3 separate regions of the Homo sapiens genome follow, and all the other regions are linked to region 2. The links come from fine-mapping of genetic effects on gene expression. A gene starts in region 2. Each other region holds a variant in brackets. All regions are shown on one strand. Distances are between the middles of the regions. Region 1 holds the start of GPR27 (G protein-coupled receptor 27). Region 2 holds the start of EIF4E3 (eukaryotic translation initiation factor 4E family member 3). Region 3 holds the start of PROK2 (prokineticin 2).

Region 1 (8,181 bases), 30 kb after region 2:
GGCTCACTGCAAGCTCCGCCTCCCGGGTTCATGCCATTCTCCTGCCTCAGCCTCCTGAGTAGCTGGGACTACAGGCGCCTGCCACCATGCCCAGCTAATTTTTTGCATTTTAATAGAGACGGGGTTTCACCGTGTTAGCCAGGATAGTCTCGATCTCCTGACCTCATGATCCACCCGCCTCGGCCTCCCAAAGTGCTGGGATTACAGGTGTGAGCCACCGCATCCGGCCTCTACAAATAATTTTTTAAAAATTAGCGGGGCATGGTGGTATAAGCCTGTGGTCCCAGCTACTCAGGAGGCTGAGATAGGAGGACGGCCTGAGCCTGGGAGGTTGAGGCTGCAGTGAGCCATGATGATGCCACTGACTCCAGCCTAGGTGACAGAGTGAGACCCTGTTTCAAAATAAATAAAGTCAGACTTCCAGCTCTTACACTTACTTGAAAGTAAGTGTAAAGTAAGTGTAAGTGGTGAAAGCGTGAACAAATTAACCCTTCTGCCTCCTCTGCAAAATGAAGACAGTAACAGCACATACCACATCTGGCCATTACAATGATTACATTAAATAACACATGTCGAGAATTTAGCACAATGCTTGGCATACGGCAAGTGCTCAGTAAAAGGTGGCTGCCATTAGTATTACCATAAAGCAACCAGAGTTGGTGAATTTGTGTGGGTTATTAAGAAGGCATTCCCTCCTCTGGGCAGAGGCAGCCCAAGCGCTAAGGGCCACAGCAAGGCAGGATCGAATTCTCTACAGCCATGGGTCTAACTTTAAACAAAGAAATAAGAAACCATTTCCTACCCTCCCTTGCTCAAGTGCTCACTCTCAATTGATAGCCAATGATATGTTTAAGTGTTTGTTTATAATGTAGGGCTTCTAGAAAGCTCTTCCTACTTAGATGGCTGGAATATTGCTGCTCTTTTCCCTTTTCTTCTTTCTGCCTGGAATGAAGAAATGATGGCTGGGGCGTCGGCAGCCTACTGTGATCATGAGGGAAGGGCTAAAAGATTTTCAGAGATTCAGTCCTTGAGCCAATAAATCAATGTCAGCAACTACTGACCTCCAAACTTCTTCTTTCACGAGGAAAATAAACTCATGTACACGTTTTTTGCTACTAGTATCAAACTGCAATTCCTAACCCATACACCCTCCAAAATCTATTTTCTATCAACATACATTTACAGATGTGCCTGGTCAGCCACTTGCTGCTGGCCACTTAGGAGTCCCAAGTCAGGTGCTCAATAGTTGATTTTCTTGAAAAATCACTTAGATTTTTAAAAAAATATCCAAACTGTCCCCAAGGGCCTTACTATTCAAAGTAAGGTCAGCAGACCAACAGCATTAGTCTCACCCCGGAGCTTGTTAGAAATGCAGAACCTCCGGCCCCATTCCAGAACTACTAAATCAGAATCTTCATTTTAACAGGGTCCCCAGTGATTTCTGCACATAGTGAAGTTTGAGGCTCTGGACTAGGTTTACCGGCTCTGCTCTGTCATCCCTCCTCAACACTGCTGCCAGAATAATGTTCCTGGAGCACACCTAGTCATGTCGCTCCCCTTCTCAAAAGATTTCAAGGGCTCCTGACTGCCTGCAGACTAAAGTTTCGACTTCTTAGCCTGATCATTAAGGCCCTCTATGATCTTGCACTATCCTGAAAATGCCCATCAAGGTGCCTGCCTTGCATGTAATCAGTAGGCAACAAATAATTTTCTGCACAGAAGAAAAAACAAATGAGTGTGGGTGAGAAACAATGCGTTGCTTAATTCTGGCTTTACCATGCTAAGCACTGGGGATGCAGTGGTACCAAAAACCAGGCATGATCCCTTGCCTTCAAAGAGCTTAGAGCCTAGTTAGAAGAGCATGATTTTTAAAAAGAAATGAAAGTATATAATGACAAATTATAAGTGCTAAGAAGGAAATGACTAGAGGGCAGGGATACAGAGTAAAACAGACGGGTTAGAAGGAGGCCCTACGGAGAGGGAGCCTGTTGTGGGGCTGGTCCAGGCAGAGGTACCAGCACATGCAAGGTCCTGCGAGACAAATGCGGTGTGTCTGAGAATCATAACAGGGGCTGCCCTTTCAGGCTTACCCAGAAAATAGATATCCTGGGAGGAAGGTGGCATAGGGTTCACCTTCCAAGTCACTTAAAGATGAAATGCTGCATTTCTTTTCCCTGATATAGGTCCTTCACCGGGATCACGGATGAGTTAGCGAGCAGGGGATGCTGCGGAGTCGCTGTGAGTCCAGCACTGGAAATCAGACCAAGCGAAATTTGAATCCCAGCTCCGCTACTTCCCGGCTCTCAACTCCCTTGACCTCCAAGCCTCTGCTTCCTGAGGTATAAAGTGGGATTAAGGATGGCAACAACTTCGTGATTACTGTTGAGGGAGATAATGCTTGCCAAGCTCCCCAGCACACTGCCACCCACATCAGTGCGCACCTGAGTATCAGCGGTTTTAGGATTACGATGACTATTACTATCGTAAATTACTCCCAGCTTTCGGGCAGAAGGCTCATTCCAGATATTCCTGTCCCCTCTGAGGCCTCCCGACCCTGCCAGCCCAGGCAACCTCCCCCGCGCACGGCCACCGTGACCCCAGCGCGGGCGCCGCCGCCGGACCCCCGTTACCTGGGGCCAAACGCGACTTGTCGCCACCTTGCGTCCTGGGCCCTGCCTCCCTCCCGGCCGCCTCCCGACCCCGCGGCTGCTGCGGAGGCGCCCCCAGCCCAGCCGGGCCCAGGCGGTGCGGGATGCCTCGGCGGGGCTGGCGGCGGCGGCCGCGCTGCGCGCTCCGGCGGAGGGGAGGGGGCTCCGCGGCGGCGGCGGCGGCGGCGGCAGCGGCGGCAGCGGCGGCGGCGGGCCCGGCGGGGGGCAGAGCCAAGAGGCGCGGCGGCAGCAGCGGAGGAGTAGGAGGAGACGGAGGAGGATGCGGGGGGCTGCGGACGGTGGCGAGGCCCTGTCCGCAGTGAAGCCCGCGGCGCCTAGGGCGCAGGGAGTGGCCGCCTCCTCCTGCGCGCACCATTCCTGAGATGGCGGCGGCGGCACAGCGGCGGCTCGGGGAGCCCAGGAGGGGCCGGCCGGGAGCGGGCTGAGCCCCGCAGGACGGGGAGCTCGCCCAGGGCCGGCGGAGCGGCGGAGCTCGGGCCGGGCGGCCTGCGGGAGCGGCGAGGCAGGGGACGGCCCCGGGGCGGAGCGCACGGCCTGGTGAGGCCGCGATGGCGAACGCGAGCGAGCCGGGTGGCAGCGGCGGCGGCGAGGCGGCCGCCCTGGGCCTCAAGCTGGCCACGCTCAGCCTGCTGCTGTGCGTGAGCCTAGCGGGCAACGTGCTGTTCGCGCTGCTGATCGTGCGGGAGCGCAGCCTGCACCGCGCCCCGTACTACCTGCTGCTCGACCTGTGCCTGGCCGACGGGCTGCGCGCGCTCGCCTGCCTCCCGGCCGTCATGCTGGCGGCGCGGCGTGCGGCGGCCGCGGCGGGGGCGCCGCCGGGCGCGCTGGGCTGCAAGCTGCTCGCCTTCCTGGCCGCGCTCTTCTGCTTCCACGCCGCCTTCCTGCTGCTGGGCGTGGGCGTCACCCGCTACCTGGCCATCGCGCACCACCGCTTCTATGCAGAGCGCCTGGCCGGCTGGCCGTGCGCCGCCATGCTGGTGTGCGCCGCCTGGGCGCTGGCGCTGGCCGCGGCCTTCCCGCCAGTGCTGGACGGCGGTGGCGACGACGAGGACGCGCCGTGCGCCCTGGAGCAGCGGCCCGACGGCGCCCCCGGCGCGCTGGGCTTCCTGCTGCTGCTGGCCGTGGTGGTGGGCGCCACGCACCTCGTCTACCTCCGCCTGCTCTTCTTCATCCACGACCGCCGCAAGATGCGGCCCGCGCGCCTGGTGCCCGCCGTCAGCCACGACTGGACCTTCCACGGCCCGGGCGCCACCGGCCAGGCGGCCGCCAACTGGACGGCGGGCTTCGGCCGCGGGCCCACGCCGCCCGCGCTTGTGGGCATCCGGCCCGCAGGGCCGGGCCGCGGCGCGCGCCGCCTCCTCGTGCTGGAAGAATTCAAGACGGAGAAGAGGCTGTGCAAGATGTTCTACGCCGTCACGCTGCTCTTCCTGCTCCTCTGGGGGCCCTACGTCGTGGCCAGCTACCTGCGGGTCCTGGTGCGGCCCGGCGCCGTCCCCCAGGCCTACCTGACGGCCTCCGTGTGGCTGACCTTCGCGCAGGCCGGCATCAACCCCGTCGTGTGCTTCCTCTTCAACAGGGAGCTGAGGGACTGCTTCAGGGCCCAGTTCCCCTGCTGCCAGAGCCCCCGGACCACCCAGGCGACCCATCCCTGCGACCTGAAAGGCATTGGTTTATGAGGGAGGCCCCGCCACATAGACCCCCAACCCAGCCTTTCCCTTTGGCTCGGACGGTGACGTTGTATCTTTTCCTTCTGGCCCCTGTTTAATTTTCTAAGCTGCCTTCAAAATGACTCGAAGTGGACAGACACTTGGATTGTACTGACTCCTTTGGGGGTGGGGTGGGTGAGGAGTAGGATGCTCAGCCCACTCCAGCTCCGCACATTCGTCCTCCTAACTCGACTTTCTTCCTGACAATAGGCCCTGCAGTCTTTTTGTAGCGGTACTGACGTCTTTTATTCCATGTGTGGTTCCTTTTTTTCTTTTTCTATAAAGGCTGTACTAATTTTCTTCATGCAACGTTTCCTAAAGACCATGGCCAGTTTTCTACAGAAGCTATTTTTGACAACCTCAAGTGGCATTACATTTTGCAGTGAAGTAGAGGAACCTAGGGGGACTTCTTCACAAGTTAGATTTCTTGAGGATCTTCTGTTGGAAGCAGGAGAAAGTGGGGGGTGGGGGGAAGTTGTCCGAAATGCCCTCTGAATTGCCGGCTGCAGGGTCCTTGTGCTGCGCTGGTTCTTTGAAAGTCTCAGTGTTGATATTGAACTTAAAGAGCAGAGATGGAGATCAGTAGCAAGGCAGTCATTTTTTTAAAGCAGTAAGTAACAAGTAAGATTTGGTTCCCGGTTTACTTTCTGCTGCTAAAAACCACGTCAGTGACAACTGCTCTCTGTAT[T/G]ATAGCAATCTTGAATGGAAACATTTCTGTCAAGTTGTAAGTTTTAAAAGAGTAAAGTGTTTTGGTTAGTAATGATGTGGAGAAAAATACAGTATTGCATGTGTTCGTGTGTATAGATTGTGGTTCGAGGATTGGGAGGGCTCTGAGAAGCAGAGTACTACATCAAAATTGTTTTAAGTATTTTTTGCCAATAAAAAATTAATTTTATGGAAATGGCTTGTGCTTTGAGAAGCCCAGTTTTATTCTGTCTTATGAAACTAATTTCCACTTTGAAAATTGTTCTTCTGTTGTTTATGGTATAAATGAATGGAATATAATGATATCCTCCTTCTAGGAAACAAAGCATTTCCTTAAAATGTTTGCTAGGTTAAGCTGTGCTGTTCTACTGATGGTTGTTTTAAATTAATAATGAGAACTATAATTTAAATAATATTTCTTTGTTAGACATTATAATGTTAAACTGAAAGACTAAATTCTGCAAGTACTATATAATATTTTTGGCTTATAATGCTACATTTTTATTAATGTACCTTCCGTTTTGAGGATTTATATCTGTATTTCTCTTTGCATTATACAAATATACCAGTATTTTCATTCTGGAGTGGTTGTTTTGTTGTGGTGGTGGTGGTGTTTGAGGCTGTAATAATACATGCGTCGAAGTATGTTACATGCCTCTAAGTATGTTATGTAAGGATAACATGCTCTATGATCCTTTTAGCACGTGTTCTTCAGTTACAGGTTTCATAGTTTGACCATCAGCATATCCAAGAAAAGTGGAGGCTTAATTTAAAATGCAAGATAAAATCTGCGAAACTTTTCTTTAAAGGGAAGAAGCAGTAGACATATATACGGCTTTAAAACTGTTTTTTTATTTGGATGACAACATTTCAATGACTATTCGTTAAATGACATAAAAAAGCTTTTAAGTAAACATATCAAACTCAAGTACAAGCGATCATTTTGATAAAAGTACTAGGTAAAAGTGGGGGTGGTAGATTATATTGAAATTTAGCTGAGTATAATATAAACTATTAAATGTTCAGTCCAATGGGAATAAGTTATAAAAAGAGTGTGGCCAATTTAATTGATCTCTGGTAAATAGGCTGCATGATTTTATTTTGTTGTGGAAGTTAATCAGTCTGTGAAGACAGTCTCACACTTGGAAAATATGAGACAGTTACCCTATTTCTCCCCACATCATGAATCCAGGTTGGCCTCAATCATCCAAGGGCCACTGATCGGAAACCTCAGCCAACCCCAAGATAGAGGAGCCCAGAAGTACCTCTCTCCTCATCTAACCCTCCACCTGCCCAAGTGATCTCAGTTCCAAATAGAGGTCGAACCAGTCTACGATGGCTCATGCCTGTAACCCCAGAACTTTGGGAGGCCGAGGCAGGAGAATTGCTTGAGACCAGGAGTTTGAGGCCAGCCTAAGCAACATAGCGAGACCATGTCTCTACAAAAAATCAAAAAATTAGCTGGGTGTGGTAATGTGCACCTGTGGTCACAGCTACTGGGGAGGCTGAGGTGAGAGGATGGCTTAAGCCCATGAGGTCAAGGCTGCAGTGAGCCATGACTGTGCCATGGCACTGTAGCCTGGATGACAGAGCTCTCGAGACCCTGTCTCAAAAAAGCCCCCAAAACAGAGATCACCAAGTCTCTGTGATTTTCCCACCTGGCATGGCACAGGAACCAGCCCATCATGGCTGACTCCTGAGCCACTCCAGCTTTGGGCAGCAGCTCAGCTGCACCAGAGGTGACGTGTTGGCCTGACATAGCCTTGAATTCAAGGGATATTTTGTCATATGAGAATTCATAAGCCAGAGGTTCTCAAATTCTAACATTCATACAAATTAAGTGTCTGTGTGATCCAGAGTCTTATGAGGACATGTTGAGTTGGGTCCTGGGGAAAAGCATTTCAACAGGTTCCTCAGGTGGTTGGAGACAGACCTCCAGGACTTCGTTCAGACATGATTTACTTCAGACATGATGCGTTCAAACTTGGCTACCTGGGTTTTTTATTTTTATGTTTTAAAGTTCTGATTAGATGGGGGAAGGCAAGATTTCTAGTGAGTGTGCAGGTGAGAGTAGCAAGAAATAACAGCCAACTAAAGGAAACGAGAACCAAAAGAGCCAGAGAAACAAGCTATGTAGCAGAAAGTGGGGAGGTGCAAAGGGCCACCCCAACAGCTTTTAGGATTGGTGAATCTATTAACATGTACTTTGATAGTTAATTACATTAATCAAAAATTATAAAAAAAAAAAAAAGGTTAGTTGTGTCCACAGTACTCTACTTATTGTACCAGCACAGGCACCATGTATTTAGGGAAGATTTCATTAAAATTGCTCATTTTATTTATTTGGGAAGTTAATTTAGCACAACTTCCCCACCCTCCCACGCAGTTGTCACTATACTTGAAGCAATGTAGGCTTCCCGTACATAGATCTTTGTCTGTATGTTCTAGCATGGAATTGCTGGGTCAAAAGAAGCATTTTTAGGACTTTTGATATCTTGTCAAATAGTTTTGTAGAAGGACCATATGTCTATATGTCTGTTTAAATGTACAGTACACCTGACATATTCTTTTTTTTTCTTTTGAGACAGAGTCTCGCTCTGTTGCCCAGCTTGGATTGCAGTGGCGTGATCTCAGCTCACTGCAACCTCCACCTTTGGGTTCAAGTAGCTGGGATTACAGCTCAGCCTCCCAAGTAGCTGGGATTACAGGCGCCTGCCACCAGGCCCAACTAATTTTTGTATTTTTAGCAGAGACAGGGTTTCGCTATGTCGGCCAGGCTGGTCTCTAACTGTTGGCCTCAAGTGGTTTACCAGCCTTGGCCTCCCAAAGTGCTGAGATTACAGGTGTGACACATTCATTTTTTAAATGAAATATTTTAAGCAAAGTGGGGAAGCATGTAACAAATCAGTAACAACAGTGATAATCTCTGTGTCCACTACTCAGCCTTACCAAATGCCATATTGGTTTCTACTCTTCCTTTTCTCTTTTCCCTTCCTTCCTTCTTTCTTCCTTCCTTCCCTCCCTCCCTTTTTTCTCTTTCTTTTTTAAAAAGAAATAAAACGGCAAAATTATTTCTCCGAAGTCTTTGTTCTCACCATCAG
Region 2 (8,181 bases):
ATGGAGCCACCACAGGAGAAGGTGAAGTCACTGCGGGTAGAATTCAACAACACCCTGTTCAGGGTATTCAGTGCGGACTGACTTGTGCTAGGCTCCAATCCAGGAGCTAAGGACAAGGCATCCGGGACGAGAACTCTGCCCTCATGAGGTTTACATCCTAGTGGGAGAAGACAAGCCAATGGTGGTAATGCTATGGAGAAAATAAAACAGGGTCAGGGGCTCGGGGTGTGTGTGTCAGGATGCTTGCGCCATTTCATAACAGTGGTCAGGCAACATAAGATGGTTTGGCTGTGTCTCCACCCAAAATCTCATCTTGAATTGTGATCTCCATAATCCCCATATATGTCAAGGGCAGGACCAGGTGAAGGTAACCGGATCATGGGGGTGGCTTCCCCCATGCTGTTTTCGTAATAGTGAGTGAGTCTCATGAGATCTGATGATTTTATAAGTGTCTGGCATTTACCCTGCTTGCACTCACTTGGTACTGCTGCCCTGTGAAGAAGGTGCCTGCTTCTCCTTTGGCTTCTACCATGATTGTAAGTTTCCTGAGGCCTCCACAGCAACGTGGAACTGTGAGTCAAACCTCTTTCCTTTATAAGTTACCCAGTCTTGGGTAATTCTTCGTAGCAGTGTGAGAACAGACTAATATGGAAGGTCTGAGAAGGTGACATGTGAGCAGAGGCTTGAAGGACAGGAAAGAGCAGGGCAAGCACTGATGGAGGTGAGAGCACTCCAAGCAGTAGGGGGTGTCAGTGGCTAAGGTCCCTGCTTGGGATGAAGGCGAAAGAGCAAGGGGACCGATGAGCAGAAAGAAGGGCATGGCAGAAGGGAGAGTGACAAGGGAGAAAAGGGTCCTGGGTGGGGCAGGAAGAGCTGCAAAGCTTTATGGTTCCTGTAAGCCCTTTGGCTTTTCCTCGGGGGGGCGGGGGTGGGAGGTGGTTACAGATGACTCTAAGATTTCTGGGCTGGGCAACTGGAAGGATAGACTTGCTCTTAACTGCTCTTATCTGAGATACAGATAGAAGGAAACAAGTTTGGGAAGGCAGTTGAGGAGGTAGTTCAGTATATGTTGAGTCTGGTTGTGTATTACATTGGACATCCATGGAGACAAAGGGGAAGGAGCACTGGATCTAAGAGTGTAAGGTTTTGAGAGTCACCAGAATTCAGGTGGACCTGAAAGCACTGTGACTGGATGAGATCCCTGGTGTAAATGGCACAAAGAAGAGGCCTGAGGCCTGAGTCTTGTGGGAAAAAACTCAGAGGCGAGCGGGTCACCATAAGATCAAAAGGAAGCAGTTAGAGACACATAACCCAGAGTGGCTTCCAAGAATCAAGACAGGATAGTTTTAAATGTCCAGAAAAGGGGAGAAAAACTCTTCAGCCTGTACCCCCAATCTAAAATTACCTTCCTCAAATGCCGAAATCCTTAACCATACAGTCTAATTTTTTAACCAAATAAGGACTTATTGGAGTTGACTATTAAAAATACTAATAACTTTACAGAGGAGTTCTCCAACTCATCCAGTGAGGGGAATGAATTTAGGTTTCTGGCTTCCCAACACAGAATTCAGACAAGCTGCTCCAGAGACTGTTTGTTGGGGTGTGGGTATGGGGAGGGGTTGGTAGCTGGGGAGCATGGTAATGACAGTGTTAGTAGTTTATGCTTAGGAAGCTCCTTCTACCAGCTGGCACCTGTTAGGTGTTGTACATCATGTCTCTCATTTAATCCTCAGAACTGCCCTGTGAGACATAGCCTATGACTATCCCATTTTACAATGAAAGTGAGGCTTGGGGCAGCTAGATGGCTTGCTCATCAGCACACAGTAGGCTGGAAAGTAGGACAGGCCGGGAGGTAGGATGCCAAAGGGGAGTTTTAAGTAGCAAGAGGCCTTTGCATGCTATGGAACTCAAAAACCGATGTCATCTTGCCAGGCAGACATTGGCTATGCTGCAGGTAAGGCTGCCTTGGAGGGCTCTCCTGAGAACCTCACCAGTCTCTAGAATGTTGTTTACCTGGGGAGAAAAGTTACTAATGAACTTCTAGATCATAATGTGTTCATAACCTCAAGGGGGAGAGGGGCACCCTATATAAAGGTAATGGATTCCCACAGAAGGAGAAAAAGTTCAATAAAAATTATGAGTTGTTTGATCGGGCAAAATGAATTCATATGTACAATATTGGAACTCATTATAATTTCTAAATTAATACAGCCATTTCTATTAAAGATCTGGACACTGTGGCAATAATGTATTTCATTTGATGATCGACCTTTAGAGAACAAAAATGTGTAAATCAATAGTATAGATATAGTTTTTGTCTTCATTAAAGTTACTATAATCTTAAGCTACTAGTCTTAAAAGATTGTGTTATCTGTAGTATTGACATTTTAGACCAGTCCTTAAAAGTGTTGTTCCTACATGTAAACTAATTTTAGACCTGTTTAAAAAGAAACTCTCTTGATACTGTTTCCACCAGTCAGCAGTATTCACAATTTAGACCACAGGTCCAGGTTTAACACCTTGAAAACAGATACCAGGTAACAATAGCACAGTTGCAGCACACCTATGAAAACAGACACGATTTCATTCTGCTAAGGTCTGCCAAAAGCACGCTTGTTATGACAGTATAATGCTCTCTTAGCATCCCATAATGAAAGTGAAAATGTTTTGAAAGAACGAAACTCACTCCATCTCCCCCACCCCCAACTTTTTTGGGTCTCCGGCAAAGAAAATGGCAGCAAGTGACAATTCTTATAGACGGGTGCTATAAGAACCCAAAAGGAAAAAAGAAATGAGCTTGTCTTAACCAAAAAAAAAATGAATATCACTTTTTTAAAACAAAATCTTGCAGTCATTTTATGCAAAGCCTTTTAAAACCAGATTTGTGTGTACCAAGCAAACTTCTCAGAACACTGTCACACATTTCTTCCTAACACTTAGCCAGAATAGACACGGTTTCATCAAAATTTCCAAATGCTCTTGGGACAACCTTGAGGTGTCATCATTGGGCACCCACTGCAGGGCAGACACTAAGAAGGGGCTTTGCATTCATCCATCTATTCATTCATAACAATTTCTGGTGTTCTTACTAGGGACCAGGCACAGTTCTAGGTCCAAAATGTCCAAAAACAAAAATCCACTGCTCTTTTATCCTTAACTGAGGGGAGGTGTTGAGGAGCTGGGGAGACAGACTGAAAGTAAACAAATTCATATATAATAAAATCCAGCTGCATTAAGCATTAGGAAGAAAAAGAAGGCAGGGCAGGAGAATACAAAACGAGGGAGCAAGGTTTCTATTTTAGATACGGTAGTCAGGGGGTCTTTCTGAAAAGATGGCACCTGGGTTGTCCCTTGAGAAAGCCATAATTCACCCCCTTCCTGACAAGGTCAGCTGCTGCTCATTATTGAATCTCCAGCGCATAGCAGGTGTGTGGCTCCACTGTAGGTGTTCAGGAAATACCTGCCCAGTGGATGAGGAAGAACTGGAAGAGGAGTCCACGGCAGCAGCGGCCGGACACGGGGTGGGAGCGCCCGCCGTGCAATAATCATTGCACCACCGCACACCTCCCAAGGGATGGGCAACTTTTCCGAGCGCTGTCACAGCTGAGGTCGTGTCCTGAGCTCCCAGGCGCCCCGCGGGGTAAGCAGGACAGCCCTCTCCCTGCAGCAGGGACGCGGCCACCCCCAGCTCGCCTACCCTCTCCCACGGCCCTGCCAGCACGCCGCGTTCCGATCGGAAGGGAACAAGGGGTAGAAAGTGTTGCCGAAACTTTTCGGGCTGCGCTGTCCTCCCCCGGCCCGGAGGCGAGGACGCCGAACAGCCGCCCGGCGCGGCCCGAAGCTGGCTTCCGACCCGGCGGGGCGAGTCCCGGGGTGCGCAGGCGGACGCGCGGAGGGGCCGAGGTCTGTGCCACAGCGGAGCGGGGCCGGGGCGAGGGGCCGCGCCGAGACAAAGCGGCGGTGGCGGCAGGACCCGGGTCGGGGCCGTGCGCGGCGGGCCCCGCGCCCCCTCACCTGTCGAGCCAGAAGGTCCAGGACGAGTGCAGCGGGACCCCGCCCGGCTCAGGCTGCAGCGCCGACAGCTGCTGCAGGCCGAGCGGCGGCTCGGGGGCGGCGGCAGCGGCGGCGGCGCGGGACCCCGGCGGCTCCCGGGCCCCGGCGGGGGGCGCGGCGGCCGGGGGCAGCGCCATTTTCTCCGCCCCGCCTGCAAGGCCGGCGGACGCGCGGACCGCGGGGCGAGCGCGGCTGAGTCACCCCCGGCCCCCGCCCCGCCCCGCCCCGCGCGCCCCGCCCCGCCCCGGGCTAGCCGCCCGCCGCCCGCCGCCCGCCGCCCGCCGCCTTCAGGGCCTGGGAGCCGCGCGGAGGGGCCGTGGGAGGCACGGCCGGGCCGGGGCCGCCGAACAAAGACAGACCCACGGAGGGATGGGGGGCCGATCCCGCTCAGGCGCGGGCCCAGCGTGGGAGACTGACGGCCTGGCCTGGAGTGGCGGCCGGGGACGGGCTAGAGGGCCCACGGGGGTGAGAGGGACCGGGGAACGGTCTGCGGGCTGGCTCTGCAGCCATGCAAAAGGGCAGCGGGATGGAGCGGCAGGCTAGGGACAGATGGAGGGATGGATGGGACAGGGGATGGAGCCCCAGACCCACGTGGTGCGAGGGAAGGAGGGATGGACAGACATACCAGCAGTCAGAAGGATGGAGTGAAGGCTGGCAGATGGCTGGAGGAGAGAAGGAGGGATGGAGGGCAGATGGAAGCACAGTTGGGTGTGACAGATAAATGGAGAGGGGAACCGATGGCCAAATGGATAAAGAGACTCCAGTGCCCGCGAGTACAGAACAAAGGGCGAGAAAGAAGAACGAACAAGAGAACCACCGACTGGGGCATGAGGTTGGAGCAGGTGGGCTTTGCATTCCTCTTGGTGAGAGCATACTTCCTAACTCCGCTGATTTGAAGGGGCCAGAGCCCCCATCCCAACCTCTGGAGCTACCATGTGACCACAGTGAAGGCCTCAAGCCTGGCTTAACGTGTGGCTAACTTCAGAGAACATTTCCCAAAATCAGCCAAAGTATCCAGATCTGCCCTAAAGCACCGGCGAGTCGGGAGGAGGAAAGCGGGCACCTGTGAACACAGAGCGCTCTGCTTCCTGTACCTCTGAGCACCCAGGAAGTCCCTTAGGCGGTGAGATTCCTGAGCCCAAAGTAGGAGGGGCCCTCCTAACACAGCATCTCCCCAGGTCTCTGTCACTTTCTTTTTCAAAAGAAAAGCAAAGGCATGAGGCCTGTGAACACACATGTCACAACCAGCATGGACATCCTCTTTACACTTGAATTTCTAGATAGTTCCTCTCTGGCTTTGAACAGTGAAGGGCGTGGGATGCCATCTCCTCATTGACCTTCTACCTGGCCTAGCATGTGTTCTGTTCATGCCTTGAGCATTCGCTGGGATGGAAGAGCTACAAAACAAGATGAGTTCAGGGGCATCAACAGCATCATAGCAGACTGTCATGAATCCCAGAGTAGATGCCCTCCCTAAAAGGTAATCAAGGTCACATAAAGTGACAATAATAAAAACAAGACCGCTGCTTTAAACTTAACTTCTATACAACATACAATGCTGGAAGCAATGACAGATTTTATAAAATCTGTCCAACACTAAAACAGGGGAGGGTGCTTTTGGTTAGATGCATTTATCTTGTTGCTTAATATCTCCTTTCATTTTTCCAAGAAGCGTGGTATATGGCATTGTTTAAACTGCTCTGAGCACTTTACCCGTAATAACTCATTTAATCCTTACAATAAGCCAATGAGGAAGATACTATTAACCCATTTTACAGATGAGGAACAGAGATAAGATTAAGATAACCCCAAGGTCACAGAGCTAGTAAGTGGGACAGCTGGGATTTGAACATAGGTATTCAGACTCCAGAGTCTAGACTTTCAACTGCCAGACTCTCCTACCTCTCTACACAGAACACTAACAAGTCCACAACGTAAAAACAAGCTGTGAATAGTAGGTCTCCCTCCCTCCCAAGACTATCAATCTTCATTCCCAGAGGAAACCACTGGCAACAGTTTCCTTCCAGAAAAATGCAAGTATGCACATGCAAGCATATATCTAGATTCATAAGTTATAAATCTATATCTTTTTTATAACCAAAATGGAAGCATTTAATACCAATGCTGTACCTTCTTATTTCACTTAACATTATATCCTTGAAGATTTTTCCATATCAAAACATATAGATCTACTTTATCTTAAGGGCTGCAAAGTAATTCATTGTAAAGAGGTAATATAATTTAATTCACTAGCCTCCAACATTTATGTGGTTTCTAGACATTTTCTTATATAAATAATGCTACCATAAGTATTTTTATATTTATGGCTTTCTTCATCTACACAAGCTAATCTCAGAATAAGTTTGGAGAAGAATTGTTGGCTGCATTTAAAAATTTGATACATATTGCCAAATTGCTTTGCAAAGTGGTTACATGAATTTATATATAGCTGATATATAAATAATGGTTGATTCTGAAAATTTATATTTACGAAGTGACACATATCTGTATAAAATTCCAAGGCATGGGTAGAAAGGAAGTTTTGCTTTCTAATGATTAAAGCTAGTCAAACTGTCAAGTTTAGCTCCTTCCTTATGTCCTTTAACAATATCCTCAGCAAAAAAGGGCTAGTCAAGAATTTTTATCTGCAGTTTCTGTAAAAGGATTGTGTACCACATGAAAAAATTCCCTCCAGAATTTAGAACTAGGAACAGTCTGGCAGTTTTTCTTTACTGAATAGCAATTATATACCTTTCTCTCTTTTTGCTTTGGCTTCCAGGCTGCTCATAATTACATTTGGTGCTCAATCACAGCACCAATATTAGCCAATGAAGAAGCATCACTATTTTTATATTTATTCCTATTTCTATTTTAAAGACCTAATAGCATATATGCACCTTACACTGAACCCCTCAAATTTATTTTGGAAGTAGGTGGTATATATGAATAGATAAAATTTAAATGACCTTAAGATTAATAAAAGAGATTATACAAAATGGCTAAGGAGGGAACAATGGTCACAACTTTCATTCCCTTCCTGTTTGAAATATGTAAGAGACTTAATTATTTTTATTGCTCTTCAGAATCATTCTTAGAAGATAATAAATTGGGGAAATTTCCCTCATCTGGGAACTGGATGGCAGGAACTAGAATTTCAAGGTAGAAAGGGGATTCAGCGATCATCTAAGCAAACCCATCACTTTACAAATGAGGAAACTGAGGCCCAGAGAGGTGAGGTGACTTACCCGAGGCCACAGCTCTAGGAAATGACAGAGGCGGGACTAGAACGTGGGTAGCTTGAGGTCCGGACCAACGTGCTGTCCCACTGCATGACACGCAACACAGACGACTTGGGGTGGCAGAAGAGAGGAAGAGAAGGTGACCCCACAGCCCCTAGCAACAAAAACAACAAGAAGGACTTGAGGCACTCATAAATAATTAAGCAATTAGCTGCAGCAGCTACTCCCCTCCCCTCCAGCATCCAGTCACCAAGGCAACTTGGGCAGGGTGCCTGCTGGTTGCCTAGTAACAGTGTGGTCTGCTCCCCTGACAAGCTCCCTAGGCATCAAAGGATTTGAGAGCCGGGAAGAACCTTAGACAGGGATCACTTTTCCAACACCTTCATTTTCCAAATGAGAAAAGAAAGGCCCAGAGAAGCTGGGTAACCTGCCCAAGGTCACACAGCTATTCAGACACACAGCCAGGCTCCATTCCCAGTTGCTTTCCATTGCACTAGGGCTGCCTCAGGGAGGCTGCAGATGGAGGAGAGGGGGAAATCGCTCTACAGTTCCTAGAAGAATGAGAAAGTCAGAGCGAGCAAGCAGGCAAGAAAGAGACAGAAACCTGAGCACTCATATGCAATTAGCAGGAGCTGGTAATCCCATCAGCCCAACTTTCATCATCACCATGGCAACATGGGTGAGGTGGGTGCTGGTTGCCTAGCAACAAGTGGTCCTCTCTCTTCTACTCACATCTGCTCCCTGGGAGTCACAGGAACAGCAGAATGATGACGTTGGAAGGGAAGGCAGGGGTCCTAACTCAGTCTCCTCCTTTACCCAATGAGGAACCTGAGGTTCAGGGACACTGGAAGTCACACAGCCACAGAGTTAGCTAGTGACATTCCCTCCA
Region 3 (8,181 bases), 61 kb after region 2:
TTCAGGTGAATAAGCTGCAAAGAGCAAATTACTGGCTTAGCATAAACATATATGTACATTACAAAATCAGCTAACAATCCTGTAAGATCCATCAAATTAAGAAATGCAAGTAACAGGTGCAATTGTCAATAGTAATTACTCAAGTCACCTGCTTTCAATATAAAAGTTGTAAATACATACAATGAAACAATCAACTATGGAGGAATTTCCATACTCTAGTAAATAGAAATAAATAATAAAATCTAAATCTATTTGCATGAAAATGGATCTGAAGAACTATTATTCTTTCCTAGAACCAACAAAAAATAGAATGCTTTGTTTGAACCGTGGGCAGTAATCTGTTTTGGTAGTGATAAGATAAAAACATCCTGTACTATATATGTAAGAAACTAAAACCTCTATCATCTAGGCACAAATTTAAATGTACAATTAGTGGAAACAACTAAAACAGTCCTTCAAAATTCTTAGTTTTGAGGACAGTCATAACTTCTCAAGATATAAAAATATGGGTACATTCTTAACATTATTTCTCATTAAAAGTAACCAACTATTTTGCTTTAAAGTTCATTTACTTCCCTCATTAGAATTTATTTCTCAGTCTATTTAAACAAAGTATCTGGATAAAAGCTAAAAATTTCACCTTGAGGTGTTTGGATTTTATAGGACAATATGTAAATGTTTCAATTTTCCAATTTTTATCTGCATGCCAGAAATCATGTATATGTAGCCATTACATCCCATAAATAAGATGTCTAGTCAATGATCTTTTACAATATAGTTTTAACAAATCTATGTGGGCATATAAATCAATTTCAAAATACCTACATACACTACCCAAAAAACTGTGGATGTCAGGTGAAAGTTTTAGCCAGCATTTTATTTCAACAGATGCTCAATACCTCGAATTTTGAGGCCCCATGAGCTTTTTTTTATGAACCAATCAAAAATCCAGCCAAAATCTTTTAAAATTCAATCACCTGGATGTTTAACATGCTATACACAATGTATCTTGATAAGTTACTGAGTTTTTCATTTGAATCCAGATGGTTCCTGTCATGGAGACATAACTACATTTTATTGCCCTGTTGCTTTAGAGACATTTTTAAAATTCTCTTTTTGTAACACTGAGTTAAAATAACAACAACAAAAACAGCACACATAACTATATAATAAGCCCAGTCTAAGCCTCTCTAACAGATAGACAGCCAATGTGATAAAATTTTATTTTGTAACAAAAGCTTCAGTTCTTGGAAAATTTACAAAGAGTTGCATAGGTTTATATATTTTTAATTAGACAGCTGTTTCCTAATGCCCTTCATCCTTAACCCATTGCAAATCTATTCAGATAGTGTTGTCCTGTGAATGGAACAAAAAGATACTTATATTGCAAAGGGATCTTGGGCTCAGAGGATTAGGAGAAACTTTAAATGAGCCAGCAGGAGAAGAGGGAGAAAAAAATCCAATCATGTTTCAATTCTCATGTATTAGAAAGACCTGCAAAAAGTTTTTCTCAACCACATGGACTGGCAAAGCTATGCAAGTAATTTTTTGAAAAAATCTCTTTTCTAATAAATATCACAGAGCTTACAGTTAAATATCTGTTGGATATATACAAATGCTGTCATAGCAAAAGGACTTTCAAAATTCTATAAACCTAATAACTAATATAGAGAAAATAGAGCTTGATTTTTTCAAGACAAAGATACTTCCTTTAAAGTCAAATGATATTATCTATGTATCAACATTTCAAACATAGACGTTTTATTTAAATCCCATTATGTGCACTTAAATATTTGAAGTAATTTAATGAAGGTGTGAAATAATTCCTCACTTAAAAAACAGTAAAGAAGTTGAACAACCAGGAAATGATAGCAGTTTTGCCTTGTTAATGTAAACTAGACTATTTAGTATTGTACTGCAAACCCAATTTTTTCAGATCCACACAAAATTGTTGAGAGTGGGAGAGAACTGAACTAGTTCCTACTTACAGAAAAGATGAAAACATCGTCTCTAAGTTTAAACATCTACACAGCAACCTACTCCATCATTATGCTGGAGCACTGGAGGTGCTTTGCCAGGAATTAGAAATTTAAAACTTTTATGGGGATACCTCAAGACCCTGAGCGCGGGGGAAAGCCCCGGAACCCAGAAGGAAGCTCCCACAATTGCTTTTCAAAGCGCTCACATGGCCCTGGACCAAGCGATTTCAAAGGGTTTCTGCGGAGGACGCATCGGGGAGCAAACTCTTTGACTGTAGGATTAAGACTCTGGGCACTTGGGGAATTCGTCTTGGTCCTTTGCATTTCAGGAAGGGGCCGTCAAATTTTAAGGTTCGAGGTTGGAGAGCCTCCAAAAGTACTTGAGAAGACTCAGAGAGAAACTTCTTTCAGCCTAACAGAAGAAAAATGCGAGGAGTGAGGCCGTGGGTGATGAGGGAGAAGTAAGCGGGAGAAGGTGGTAATAAAGGTGGTGGGCGACATCCTTGTCACTGTTTCTTCCAGGACGCGCCCAGTGTCCCCAGCCGTCTGCTGCTTTTGGATCTGGGTATTTTCCCAAGTGCACCAAGGGGCGACAGGGGCAGGTGTCCCCGCCCAGGGCGACCCTCCCTTTGCCTCTAGCCTGCCCTTCAGGGTCCCCGTCCCAAGCCCCCTGGGCACATCCCAGGCGCGCATCAGGGGCAGACAGGTGCGCCCGGGCCGCTTACCCCGGTGATCACGGCGGCGTCCCCAGCGCGGGGCGTGAGCAGCAGCGGCGGCAGCAGCAAGAGGAGCAGGAGTGGGGCGCAGCACAGGCTCCTCATGGCGCCCTCGGGACTGGGCGGCCGCCGGAGGCAGTTGGGGGCGCGGGGCCCGGGTGCGCTGGGTGGAGCGCGGAGCGGCGGGCGGACGGGCGCGGCGGCTCCCGCGAGCCTCCGGGCCGTTATAAAGGCTAGCCCCGCCGTGACTCACGCCGGCGCCCGCCCGGCAGCACACGCGGGGGGCACGGCGCGGGCACACACCCCACGCCCCACGCGCACACGCGCGCCCGCCTCGGCCCGGCCGGCTCCCAGACGAGCACGTGCTATGCGCGGCCCCCCGCGCCCCCGCCTCGGGCGCCACGCAGGCAGCGCTCCCGGCGGGGCGCCCCGCTCTGCGCCGTTCCCTCCGCCGTCGCCCAGCCACCGCCTTTCGCACGCGCCGGAACCGCTTTTGTGGTCTCCGAGACACTCATTTGCTGTCCTGGTTTCCAAAGCTCCACGTGCTCAGCGCCGAAAACTTGCAAATCATTTGCTGTACAGATGTTTAGGGGTCGCCTACTACGTGCGGGGCGCTGTGGACACATAGGGGGCGGGGGGTGGGTGAGGGGGACACAGCAGCCCCTGAATCCATTCGTTTGTTCAGCAGGTCTATACTGGGCGCCCGCTGCGTGCCAGGTACTGCCACCGGCTCTCTCCTCACGGTGGAATAACTTAACAGAGAAGACAGACATCAATCAAATACCCTGGAAACGTGGAAGGCAGGGGAAAGAACAAAGGGAGAGCAAAATCGCCCCAATCCCACATCACCCGCGACGTGAAAGGATTTGTCCTTCCAGCTGCGGGACTCCTATTTGTTTATTTCAAGTCAGAGGCCTTCCCTTTATGCCCACATCTGTTCCCGACCCTCTCCTCTGATTTTCCTCACATGTATTTCCTCCCCTCTTCAGCCCCGCGCCAGCTCCAGGCACAGCCGTTCAGGGTGATGCCAAAGGGAAATGAGAACGCCTGGTTTCGAGTGCCAGCCTGAGGCCCCTTAAGCCCTAGGTACGCAGCTCTCTCTTCTTTCTTAAACTTTCCAGCCCAGGAAAATCACCCTTCGGTTTTACAGATGCGATAGGGCGTTATTGTGATTCCTTCATTCACGTAAACATGAATTGAGTGTCTAGTGGGTTCCAGGCACACCAGGAAAGAATAAGTGACAGATTTGCCCTCCATCTCTCATCCTAGCCTGGCTCCAAAAACTGCAGCCTGTTTCCCTCAACAAAAATGACGTCAAGAATACCTAGATGTGACCACACCGAACTTGCTTGCCCGTTTTGGGAAACCCAACTTTCTTCCTGAATAGTCAGAACCTCTGGCTTTCCTGGTCTCTTAAGAACCGCAAACTATTGAAAAGCAGATGCGTCTTTCAGCCTCTTTAATAAATGCAGTAAGGAGAGTTGGGACAGAGTTACTTTCAGACTGTGGGGCTCCCCCGTGCCAAAGCATTCAGACGAAATGTGGGGGATAGCGGGGGGAAGGCAGGCAATTATCTGAATGTTAAACAGCTGAATATTTGGAAACCCCAATCTTTGGCTGATTTTTAAAAACCTTTTTCACACGTGTTCTCATGTTTAAAAAACGCCTTGAACAGAAAACACAAAAGGAGTCAAACCCTTTTTTCAACTTAAAAAAATGTTAAAATTGGACTCACAGTGGAGTAAGTAGAAACAGTAGCAAGTGACAGACTTGTGGAAAGTTTCCTTTTCCAGTCTCCATGCCAACGCTAGCTCGGGAATGCTGCCGGGTAAATGTAAAAACCAGTCAACATGGATTTTAACATTCCTATGACTTTCTTTTAATGGTCTATTTCATATTCGCTACTATTGAATGCCAGCTTGGGTATTCCCTGCTTCTTCAAGCATAGAAAATATGATATGTCTACACAGGAAAAATCAGATTTCAAAAGTGGCTGGCTTCTTACACAGCTGTTTGGAAAACAGTCCTCATAAGGCTGTTTTGAAACAAGTTTAAAAAAAAGAAATAAGTTTGGAAACACTTAAAAATAGGGTTGTTTAGTTTCATGTTC[T/C]TTTGGAAATTTTAATTGCTTTAATGCTTTAGGAGAGAAATGAAGGCTCTTGATATGTCATCTTTGTATCTGAGGCCAAGTTTGAAAAATGAAGTCTGACTTCAATTGTTATAAAGGGAAAAATGAAAAAAAAAAAGAGTTTGGATTAGTCCATTAAAAAAGGTAGTTGGGACAACTTAGCAACAATGACATAGAAATGAAACAGTAGTTTATTGATTCTTTTCTATTACTGTAACCTGTTGATATTGCCACATGATCACTTCTGCCCAGGCATAACTGTATTAGGTGAAATGAGCCTTGTGTGTGTAAAGTGTAGCCTACCATATTCCAGCAGACCATCAAGGCTCAGCTTAAACGAAAATGCAATCTAGGAGCGTCTATAGAACCCAATGTTTGTGAGACAGGCTGATCAGGATTGGAATCCTGTGTGACCACTGGGCAAGTTACACAACCTTTTGAAGCCTCTGTTTCCGGTCTTGTAAAATGGTTATAAAATACCAACCTCATGGGGTACAACCCCTATGGAATTTAATAATACCTGCAAAATGCTTATCACAGTGCCTGGAACAGACTGGGAGCTCTGTTAGGGTTACCTCTTATTAAGCCTTATTATTTGGTCTCCCCTGACAATTTCAGCCAATGCTGATATAAGTCTTTTCTGTCCTGCCCACTATATTAGATTGTACACTTTTCATGATTAGGATCCTTGTGTCTAATTTTCTATGCATCCCTCTTGGCACACAGCACGATAATAGGCATATGGCAGGCATTCAGTAAGTGACCAGCAACAGGAATATGTCCCATGAAGGACAGTCCAGAGACAGTTACGAGAAGATCATATACAGTACAGACTCATGTCATGTATATGAATCCGTTAAAGGTAGTCACCAAAAAGCAAGAGAGATGGAAGCTTTACCTGGTGCAGATGATTCAGCCTGTCTCTTTACTTGGGGGCCACGTGACTGAAATGAAGTGAGCTGGGAGACACAGGCCTGTCTCACGGCAGTCAATTTGGGACTCAGGCTGACTGATAAGGCTCCATTTCAACATGTGCTTCATGATTGCCAGTGTAGTGGCCTATACTGTGACCCCTAGCAAGTTATTTTCAAGGCCTAAGCCCTGGTACCTGTGGACGTGACCTTATTTGGAAATAGGGTTTTTGCAGACGTAATCAACTTAAGATGAGGTCATGCTATATTAGGGTGGGTTCTAAATTCAATGGCTGGTGTCTTCATAAGAGAAATGGGAGGGAGAGCTGGATACAGAGACACAGGCTAGACTCCCCCCACCCCACCCCCCCCACACACACGGGAGAACATCAAGTGAAGATGGGGGCAGAGATTGGAGCAATGCTTCTACAAGGCAAGGAACACCAAGGATTGCCAGCAGCCATCAGGATCTGAAAGAGCAAGGAAGGATTCTTCCCCAGATCCTTCACAGGGAGCACGGCCTTGTCAGCCCCTTGGTTTTGGACTTTTAGCCTCCAGAACCACGAAAGAATAAGTTTCTATTGTTTTAAGCCACCCAGTTGTGGTGATTTCATTATGGCAGACACAGGAAACTAACATAGTTGGGTGCAGCCAGAGGGTTGTACACCAGCTTTCTCTGCCTGGAATTCATGCCTGTCACTTTTGCTCACTTTTTAGTGACCAAAACAAGCCACATGACAATCTGTCTTCAAGGGGACAGACAGTGCAAGTCTGTCACTGGTTTCTGAAGACAACAAGGTATCAGGTGAGCAGTGCTATATTCTACAGGAAATGAATCATTCATGGCTTGGACTCCTTAATGAGCATAATGAACTTTGAATTATATTAGTAATTGCTATTATAAATAATAATGTGTAATTTCCTTTGTATTTTTTCTAGTACAGCATTCTTTATACCAGAATTATACAAAGACTCTGAAAGTGAGTAAATGTGTAAGCTAATATTTTCTTTTAGGTGGGTAGAAAACCATAATTTATTCATTCAACAGGTATTAACTAAGACTTACTATATTCCAGATATTGTGTGCAGCATTGGGGGTACGAGGGTGAGCAAAACAGACATGAACCCAGCCCCCTGGGAGCTTACCATCTCATGGGAAGATGCACATGAATCAAATAATCATACAACTTTATAATTACAGAAGATAAATTTAGGGTCACTATGAGAGAGCATATGAGGAAACCTGAAGCTTTCCTTACAGTTCTGGAATATGGGATGAGAGCTGAAGGTTATGCAGAATTTAACTGAGGTGAAGAATGAAACAGGGCTGGGTGCAGTGGCTCATGCCTGTAATCCCAACACTTTGGAACGCCGAGAGAGGAGGATCGCTTGAACCCAAGAGTTCCAGACCAGCCTGGACAAAACAGGGAGACCCTGTCTCTACAAAAAAATTTAAAAAATTAGCCGGGAGTGGTGACGGGCGACTGTAATCCCAGCTACCTGAAGAATCAAGGTGGGAGGATCACTTGAGCCTGGGAGGTCAAGGCTTCAGTGAGCTGTTATTGTACCACTGCACTCCAGCCTGGGTGATGGCGAGACCCTGTCTTAAAAAAAAAAAAAAAAAAAAAAAAAAAAAAAAGAATAAAACAGCAGACATGGAGGATGGCTGGGCATTCCAGACAGTGCAGACAAAAGGGTAGCTAATGTGGCCCAAGGAATGTGCCTAAAGCGAAGTCTGGAACAAATACGGAGCCAGAGGGATGGCAGGGATCCTTTGCAGGGTCTTATGTAGGCCACACTAAAGATCTTGGTCTTCATGGTTGGTCGGGGAAGGAGAAAAATCATAAGAATGGGGCAAGTGTGACATGAGCAGCTTTCATAAGGAAGACCTCCCTGCAGTGTGACTCAACCTGTCCACATCCCAACACCTTCTGGCAACCCCCAAACCCCTTTCACTGAAGGCAACTCTATCCTTCCAAAGATGACCCTGGAGTCATCTTTGACCCTTCTCATTCTCTCACACCTAAGACCCATCTGTCTGAAAATCTTGTTGCCTTTTGAAGGCAAATCTACTTTATATTATTATATTATATTATATTATATTATATTATTATTTATTATAATATAATTATATTTGTGATAATGTAATATTTTATATATAAATAAATACAAAATAAAATAAAACAGAATATATTTTAATAATAAACCCTCTGTCATGCTACCCTTCTTGTTCTGAGCCCCTGTCACCTCCAGCCTGGATTACTGTCACTGTCATTGCCTCAAGACTGGCCTCCCGGGTTCACCCTTGCCCTCTACATTCTATCATCAACACCTATTTTTTTTTAAAGTAAGTTAGACTCTTTGCTCTAAACCCTGCAGTAGTTTCTCGTTTCTCTCGCAGAGACCTTCAGATCTTTGACTTTGTTTACTACTCCTACCTCTTGTCT

Evidence for each region. PIP is the estimated chance that this variant, and not a neighbour inherited with it, causes the effect.
Region 1: its variant is fine-mapped to the expression of EIF4E3 in whole blood (INTERVAL, PIP above 0.99).
Region 3: its variant is fine-mapped to the expression of EIF4E3 in whole blood (INTERVAL, PIP above 0.99).

The regions. Positions count from the first base shown.
Region 1 is chr3:71,750,833-71,759,013 of GRCh38, forward strand. GPR27 (G protein-coupled receptor 27) reads left to right here and starts at 3,023. Exons shown (of 1, transcript NM_018971.3): 1 at 3,023-5,664. The coding sequence starts at 3,218. The coding sequence ends at 4,345. It also overlaps a transcript of EIF4E3 not described here. The variant T/G (reference allele first, on the strand shown) is at 5,064.
Region 2 is chr3:71,721,178-71,729,358 of GRCh38, forward strand. EIF4E3 (eukaryotic translation initiation factor 4E family member 3) reads right to left here and starts at 4,225. Exons shown (of 7, transcript NM_001134651.2): 1 at 4,015-4,225. The coding sequence starts at 4,190. RefSeq lists silencers at 3,630-3,749, 3,880-3,949.
Region 3 is chr3:71,782,253-71,790,433 of GRCh38, forward strand. It overlaps PROK2 (prokineticin 2), which reads right to left and starts at 2,896. Exons shown (of 4, transcript NM_001126128.2): 1 at 2,705-2,896. The coding sequence starts at 2,800. It overlaps LOC105377156 (a long non-coding RNA gene), which reads left to right and starts at 3,138. Exons shown (of 4, transcript NR_199161.1): 1 at 3,138-3,271; 2 at 3,384-3,495; 3 at 3,685-3,781; 4 at 3,965-4,175. The variant T/C (reference allele first, on the strand shown) is at 4,806.